Homo sapiens: one gene and its partner. The protein of the gene in region 1 interacts with the protein of each later gene in a pairwise test. Each region holds a gene or a part of one and is shown in the gene's direction. Other genes may lie near its edges.

Evidence for each region. The genes of interacting proteins can lie anywhere in the genome.
Region 2: the proteins of SDCBP2 (region 1) and LYAR interact in binary tests that used the Homo sapiens proteins (3 or more experiments, as listed by UniProt).

Annotation. Positions count from the first base shown.
Region 1 is NC_000020.11:1,327,683-1,331,433, reverse strand, and holds the start of SDCBP2 (syntenin-2), read left to right. Parts: upstream 1-2,294; 5' UTR 2,295-2,349; intron 2,350-3,751.
Region 2 is NC_000004.12:4,269,477-4,273,227, reverse strand, and holds part of LYAR (cell growth-regulating nucleolar protein), read left to right. Parts: intron 1-3,751. UniProt on the Homo sapiens protein: Plays a role in the maintenance of the appropriate processing of 47S/45S pre-rRNA to 32S/30S pre-rRNAs and their subsequent processing to produce 18S and 28S rRNAs. Also acts at the level of transcription regulation.

The DNA of each region.
Region 1 (3,751 bases):
CCTAAAAGGTACACATGAGTACAAGATGATGATTATTAAAGAATGGAACAGGAGCGTCTGATCCAGAGTCAGAGGCGGGAGAGGCCACATGGATGTGGGGGATCCCAGAGGCTTCCTGGAGGAGCTCAGTGGTGGATGTGGCTAGGTGGGTGGGGGCAGGAGAAGGTGTTCCAGGGGCAGCAGCAGGACAGGCAAAGGTATGGAGTCAGGGCAGGTAGGAAGTGGGTGTGCAGTGGGGCAGGAATGGTGGGGCTCCCAGTCCAGCTGAGGCAGAGGTGCTGGGGGAGTGCTGAGGAGGTAATAAAGGGAGTGGGCTGTGGAGGTCTCCATGTCAGCCCTGGGAGTTTAGCCCAGACCCTGAAGCAGGAGGGAGCCACTGAAGAGTTCGAGCAAGGGCATGCCCAATGAAAGATATTTCCAGGTGGCTGGAAGTCAGTGATGGGTGGCAACTATCCAAAGAGGGAATAGAAAGAGAGTCCCTGTAGGTATTAAATAGGTGGGAGTTAGGGGACCTGGGCTCCATGCTGACATGCTGGGACCACAGGCAAGCCCCTTACCTGGAAGGGCCTGCTTCCTCCTCCCTCTTCTATAAAGGCCCTTTCAGGTCATGACTGAATGAAGTGAGGTGGGGGAGGAGTGGCTTGGTTTAGTTAGGATCTCTATTTTCCACTTTGCTTTGGCCTTGGACACCTGACCTAAGGTGGGTCCATCACCCACGTTACCTCAGCTTCAGGCCCACACAGCTTACTCTGAGGTTGCCCCACACCTCAGCTTTCTGAAACAGTATGTCCCATAGAAGAGAAGACATGAACTTGGCCCACTTTCCAGCTAACTTGAGAGAGAAACTTTGCCTCTGTGCCTCAGTGTCCCCACCTGGAGGAATGGTGTGAGTCACACCTACTCTGCAGGGATGGCATGAGAAGCCATTGAGATAATGCCTTTAAAGTGCCAGGGGTAGAATCTCTGTGCTCTCTGGGAGTAAGTGCTGAATTAGTGGCAAATGTCTTTCTTGTTATTATTCCTATTGTGTGTTTCCTGTGTGGGACTCTGGGCTGTAAGCTCTTCATTGGCAGGCACAAGATCTGACACCCAAGGCTAGTGCAACTCTGCCAGGTGGGTCATGGGAACTGTGACGTAGGCCTGCCTGGCCCAGGAAGCAGCCCAGATACTGACACACCCTGAGTGTGTACAGCGTCAATCCTCATGGGACTGCCCAGCACACGAGTCCCTCGTCCCTCCCCAGGCACCCAGTGCGACAGGCACCCTCACCCAACCAAACCCACCAGGATCTAAACTAAATTCTTCCTCCTTTTCTGTTCAAATTTATATAATTATTTTTGGAATAAGTAGTACATTTAAACTTTTCAAAATTTAAGACACCAAAAATGTGCCATAAAAAAAAAAATCTCCACCTCAGCACACAGCTCCTTAGGTCTGCTCCCAAGAGACAACCACTCTAAATTCCCATTAAAATAATCAAACTTAATTGCTTCCCCCTTACAAAAGTCATGAGCATTCAGAGCAAAAGCTAACTTAAAAAAAAAAAAACCACCTTGGAACACACAAAAGTACAAACTGAAAACCTCACCCTCAATGCTGCCATTCAGAGATACTCAGCATTTTAGCGTATGTCCTCCTAGACTGCTTTCAACGCACATCCACTTTACAAAAAATGAAAACAAAATGCAAGAAGAGATTCACAATATTGATTTTTCAACATCTCACTAGAATCTCAGAAATGTTTCCTCATACCTTCTTCCTTAAGTGACTTTAATAGCTCTGTGATCTTCCACAGACAATGATTTATTCAAGCAGACCACAGAGATGGGCATTTGGGATTTCTACATTTTCCTTACTAGAAGCAGCAGTGATGGATGGGCCCTGTGACTCCACTGTAACAAATTCCTAGAAGAAATGCTGGGTCACAGGATATGACCACTTTTTAATATCCTGGCCTAGACCCCTAGATACCTATCACAAACCGCCCTCTAGCCAACTGCCTCGATCAGCAGGACTAGGTGTCCAACCCAAATTTAGAGCTATTTAAGAAAAGGCCAAGAAGTCTTGGTTCATAACCGTCTGAACAGCAGCTGTGAGGGCCTTAATCCCACCTCCAAATCCAGACTAAGGCCAAAGGCCTCCTCTGGGCTGGCAACCTGCCTTGTTTACCCAGCCACAGCCCTCACCTGTGCCCATCCCAGTCCAAGGTGAGTCAGCTGAACAGGGGACAGGCACCACCCTTCCCAGATCAGGAAGCCAGCTGAGAGACAGGGCTACGTTTCAGGGAGGGAAACAGATTCAGCAGCGGCAGCAGCTGGAGAAGGTCGTGGAGCAGCACCTTGCCTGCAGGTAAGCGCTGGGGGCCCTGACCCAATCCTGGCTGGGATTGGGATGAGTGAGACCTGCTCTCACCCTGTCCCCTTCCCTCCCTGCCCCTTCCCTTCTGGGACTTCCCAGGCAGCTTCCTTTCGAAGTGCTTCACTCCAAGCAGTCAAGTGTGAAGTGGGGTTTCTTCTTCTGATCCCAGCCCTGGACCAAGTTTGATTAAGGGCTGAGTGATTTTCTTCACCCAGACATCATGAGGGCCCCCGATGCCTTCTGACTGCCCATGACTGTGCTCAAGGAGATGAGATCCACACTTTGCTCCTTGAAAGGCCAATTCCAGCCGAAACCAGAGGCTGCAGGCAGGCAAAAAGCCCATTTCTCCCAAGGAATCCACAGCTCAGGCCGACTTCTCTGGCCTGAGGCTGTTTCTATCAAAAAACCTTCCTGCCACAGCACTGAAACACCTGCTGGGGAACTGCGCCAGGGGCTTCACCTTTCTAAGAACTGGTTTCTTCATCTGGAGACTGAAAATAGCCCACAAAGTCAGGAGAATGGAAGGACATACTGGACACAGGAGCCAGTGCATGCCCTCCTCAGCAGGGTCTCAGAAAATGGGGCAGAAAACGAGCCTGGTATGGGCTGGGCGAGCACTGGACAGGCAGCTTCACGTACAGTGGCCCAAGCTCATGACAATTCCACCACCATCACTTCCCACCTGGGCTCCTGCTCCCACTCCTGCCCTGTAGCCCATCCTCCAAACATCAGCCAGAGGAGGCCTGTCAAAATAACCCTTGGACCTTGGCACTCTGCTGCTACAAATCCCCCAGTGGCTCCCATCTCACTACAGTAAATGCCAAAGTCCTCACCATGACCTCCAGGCCCTCCAGGATCTGGCCCCTCTCACTTCTCCAGCTTCCTCCCCACTACTCCTCCTTACTCCCTCTCTGCACAACTGGCTTCTCACTGGCAGATGTCCTCTAAACACAACACCAACTCCCACCTGAGAGGCTCTGCAATGGCCGTGCCCACCCCATTAGGCCTTTCCTCAAATGTCACCCCACCCAGCCAGCAAGGCTTCTGAACCTCCTGACATGACCCTCCGTCCTGCTCTTTCTCTCCAGTGCCTCCCACCATCTAACACAGCACACAGAGTCACAAAGCCTATTTATCCAGCTCTTCCCCCAAAGAAAGTACATTTGGGGACCAAGTCTTCTTTCCTTCACTGCTGATACCTAGAACAGTACTCAGACTTAGCAGGTGCTGAGTAAGTAAGCGCTGAAACAATGAATAAACAGCTAACTTTTACTGAATGCCTATTATGTGCTAGGTGCTGTGCTAAATGCTTTCCATATACACCTTAACTCTTTTTAAAAATCTTTCAGTCTCCAGACAACTGTGATGCAACTATTGTTATCCAGATTACAAA
Region 2 (3,751 bases), on another chromosome or scaffold:
CTTTAAGGAGAAAAGTAAAGCAGTCTGGTTTGGAAATGTATGTTATCTTTGAAATTTAAATAAGCCCAATATAGCTTTCTGAGACCCGGTTCCCTTTCGCTCCTCCCCAACTCTCTTGCCCCTGCCTTTCACTGTTCTCTTAGAAGTCCCCTGAACTGTGCCCCTGCCCATCTCTGGGCCTGTTTCTGGGGTCTCCTTGCTTGTATCCTCAACCTCAGAATCCAGTCCCTGGCCTTCACGGGCCCTCTGAAATGCTGTCTCTTACACAAAGCTTCTCTCCTGCTTCTTCAGGCCTGAAGCACTCATACCTGTCGGGAGGTGGCAAGTCGTCATCTCTCTGCCACCTCCCCCAACCCCCAGGATCCTGCAGTTCAGAACAGGTCCAAAGACTCAAATGGGCCTGCAGCTTTATTAGCAGAGTTCAGTGACTGCCAGCATTGGGTTAGATCTCTAAGCTTAAAACCCCCTTCTCAACTTAGTAAACAGTAGTGTCCCCATATCTGTGGGATGGAAAATTCCAGAAATAAACAATTGATAAGTTTTCCATTGCATGCTGTTCTGAGCAGCATGGCGAGATCTCTTGCTGTCCTGCTGTATGCCTTCTTCACCACAAGAAGGGTGAGGATAGGACAATAAGATATTTAGAGAGACACAGAGAGACCACATTCACATAACTTTTATTATAGTGTATTGTAAAATTGTTCTATTTTATTATTAGTTATTGATAATCTTTTACTGTGCCTCATTTATAAGTGGAGCATTGTCATAGGCATGAATGAATATTTAGGGAAAGACAGTATATATAGGGGTTCAGTACCATTGTGATTTCAGGCATCCACTGGGGGTCTGGGAACTGTCCCCTGCAGATCAAGGGGGACAACTGGAATGGTTATTTTTGTTGTTGTTGTTACATTTTTTGTTTTGAGATCCTTGTAGACTCACATGCAGTTGTAAGAAATAATGGAGACTCAGGCGTCCTTATGTATCCGCGTACCCTTTACCTTGTTGCCACCCAGGATAACACTTTACACAACTGTAGTACAGCATCTCAGCCGGGATGTTGACATGGATACGCTTCCATTTCCATCGCCATTGCGCAAGGCTGCCTCCTGCTGCCCTCTTGTAGCCACAGCCACTTCCCTCTCACCCCCACCCCCTCCTTAGCCTCTGGCAATCACTAATCTGTTCTTCATTTCTGGAATCTCCGAATGTTCTATGAATGGAATCATACAGTATGTAACCTTTTGAGACTGACTCTTCGCTCAGCGTTTTTCTCTGGAGATTCACCCAGGTTGCTGAACTGACCAATATTCATCTTATTGGTGAGGAGTATCCCGTGCTGTGCGTGCATCACAGTCCTTTCATCATTCACCTGTGGAGGGACACCTGGGTGGTTTCTAGTCTCTGGTTATTAATGAATAAAGCTGCAGTAAACATTGATGTGCAGGTTTCTGTGTGAACTAAGTCAGTTTTTCTGAAGCGAATGTTCAATGCTGTGTCATACAGTAGTTGCATATTCTTTCTTTTCTAAGAAACCACCAGCTCAATAACTAATGCTGGCGAGGATGTGGAGAAAAAGGAACGCTGGTGCACTGTTGGTGGGAATGTAAATTAGTACAACCACTATGGAGAACCGCTTGGAGGTTCCTCAGAAACCTAAGAATAGAGCTCCCGTCCAATCCAGCAGCCCCACTGTTTGGGTATATATTCAGAAGAAAGGAAATCCCTGTGTTGAAGAGATACCTGCACTCCCGTGTTTGTTGCAGCACTATTTACAATAACCAAGATTGGAGCAACCTATGTGTCCAGCAGCAGATGAATGGGTAAAGAAAATGTGGTGCATGTACACAGCGGAGTACTATTCAGCCATAAAAAGAATGAGATCCTGTCGTTTGCAGCAACGTGGATGGAACTGGAAGTCATTATGCTAAGTGAAATAAGCCAAGCACAGGAAGACAAGCATAGCATGTTTTCACTTATTTGTGGGATCTAAAAATCAAAACAGTTGCCAACTCATGGAGATAGAGAGTAAAAGGATGGTTACCAGAGACTGGAAAGGGTGGTGGGAGGCTGTGGGAGAGGTGGGGATGGTTAATGGGTATCAAGAAAATAGAATGAATAAGATCTAGTATTTCATAACACAACAGGGTGGCTGTAGTCAATAATAATTTAATTGTACATTTTAAAATAACTAGAGTATAATTGGATTGTTTGTAACACAAAAGGATAAATGCTTGAGGTGATGGATACCCCATTTACTCTGATGTAAGTATCATACATTGCATGTCTGTATCAAAATATCTCACGTGCCCCATATACACCTGCTGTGTACCCACAAAAATTTAAAAAGGAAAAAACTGTCAGCTGTTTCAGGAGTCTCTGTACACATTTTATATTCCCAGTAGCAGTGTGTAAAGGATCTAGTTTCTCCACATCATGGTCAATATTAGGCGTTGCCACTGTGTTGTATTTTCGCCATTCTGATAGATGTGTGGTAACCGCTCATTGTGGTTTGAATTTGTGTGGCCCTAATGACTAATGTTGTTGAGCACCTTCTTCTGTGCATATTTGCTATCTGTATATGTTTTTGTTGAAATGTCTGCTCTCTTTTTTTAAATTTTTTTCCCCTATTTTCTAATTTGAGTTGTTTGGGGTTTTTTTGGTTGTTGTTTTTGTGGGTTTTTTTTTTTTTTAACTGTTGAGATTTTAGTTTTTAAATTTATTCTAAATAGTACTCCTTTGTGGGACATAACAGTTTGTGAATTTTTTTTCAGTCTTTTTGCTTGTTTTTTCATCATAACAGAGTCTTTTTAGGGCAAATGGTTTTTATTTTGATAAAGTTCAATTTATCAATTTATCTTATGGATTGTGCTAACAACTCTTTACCTAGCCCTAGAGCCTAAAGATTTTTTTGTTTTCTAAATTATCTTAATGGATAACTTTTTTTTTTTTTTTTTTTACAAATCAACATTTTATGTAGTTCAGGTGTACAATTTAATGTGTTACTGTATTTTATTTTTATTTTTCGAGACAGGGTCTCACTGTTGCCCAGGGTGGAGTGCATTGGTGTGATCATGACTCACTGCAGCCTCAACTTCCTGAGCTCAAGCAATCTTCCTGGGTAGTTAGGACTACGAGTACACACCACCACACCCAGCGAAGTTTTAAAATTTTGTGACGGAGGTCTTGCAGTGTTGCCCAGGCCTGTCTTGAACTCCTGGGCTCAAGCAATCCTTCTGCCTCAGCCTCCCAAAGTGCCTGGATTACAAGCATGAGCCACCATGCCCAGCTCAACTTAATGTTTTATTATACATGTACATTGTGAAATAGTGACTACAATCAAGCTGATTAACACATTTATCACCTCACATAGTTTACGTGTGTGTGTGTTGAGAACACTTAAGATATATCCTCACAGCAAATTTCAGGTCTATGTTAAATGCCTCCTAGTCTTACATTTTTTATTGAAGTCCATGATCCATTTTGAGTTAGTTGTTTTTGTAAGGTGTGAGATCCTGTTTACGCTTTCTGTTTTAACTGGCTTTCTCTCACATGACTTTGGTGGTTGTGGAGGGGCACGGCCTTGTTGCTGTCAGGTGGGGGCGGAAGTCCAGGCTCTCTACTCAGCCTCCATCCACACCTGAGGATGGCCACTTCTTGCTCCTGCCGGGCAGGGCTCCTGGTGCAGGTTCCACTGACATCACAGCAGGGGCAGCCTCATGACCGGCCTGTGTGGATGAGACCCCTGAAT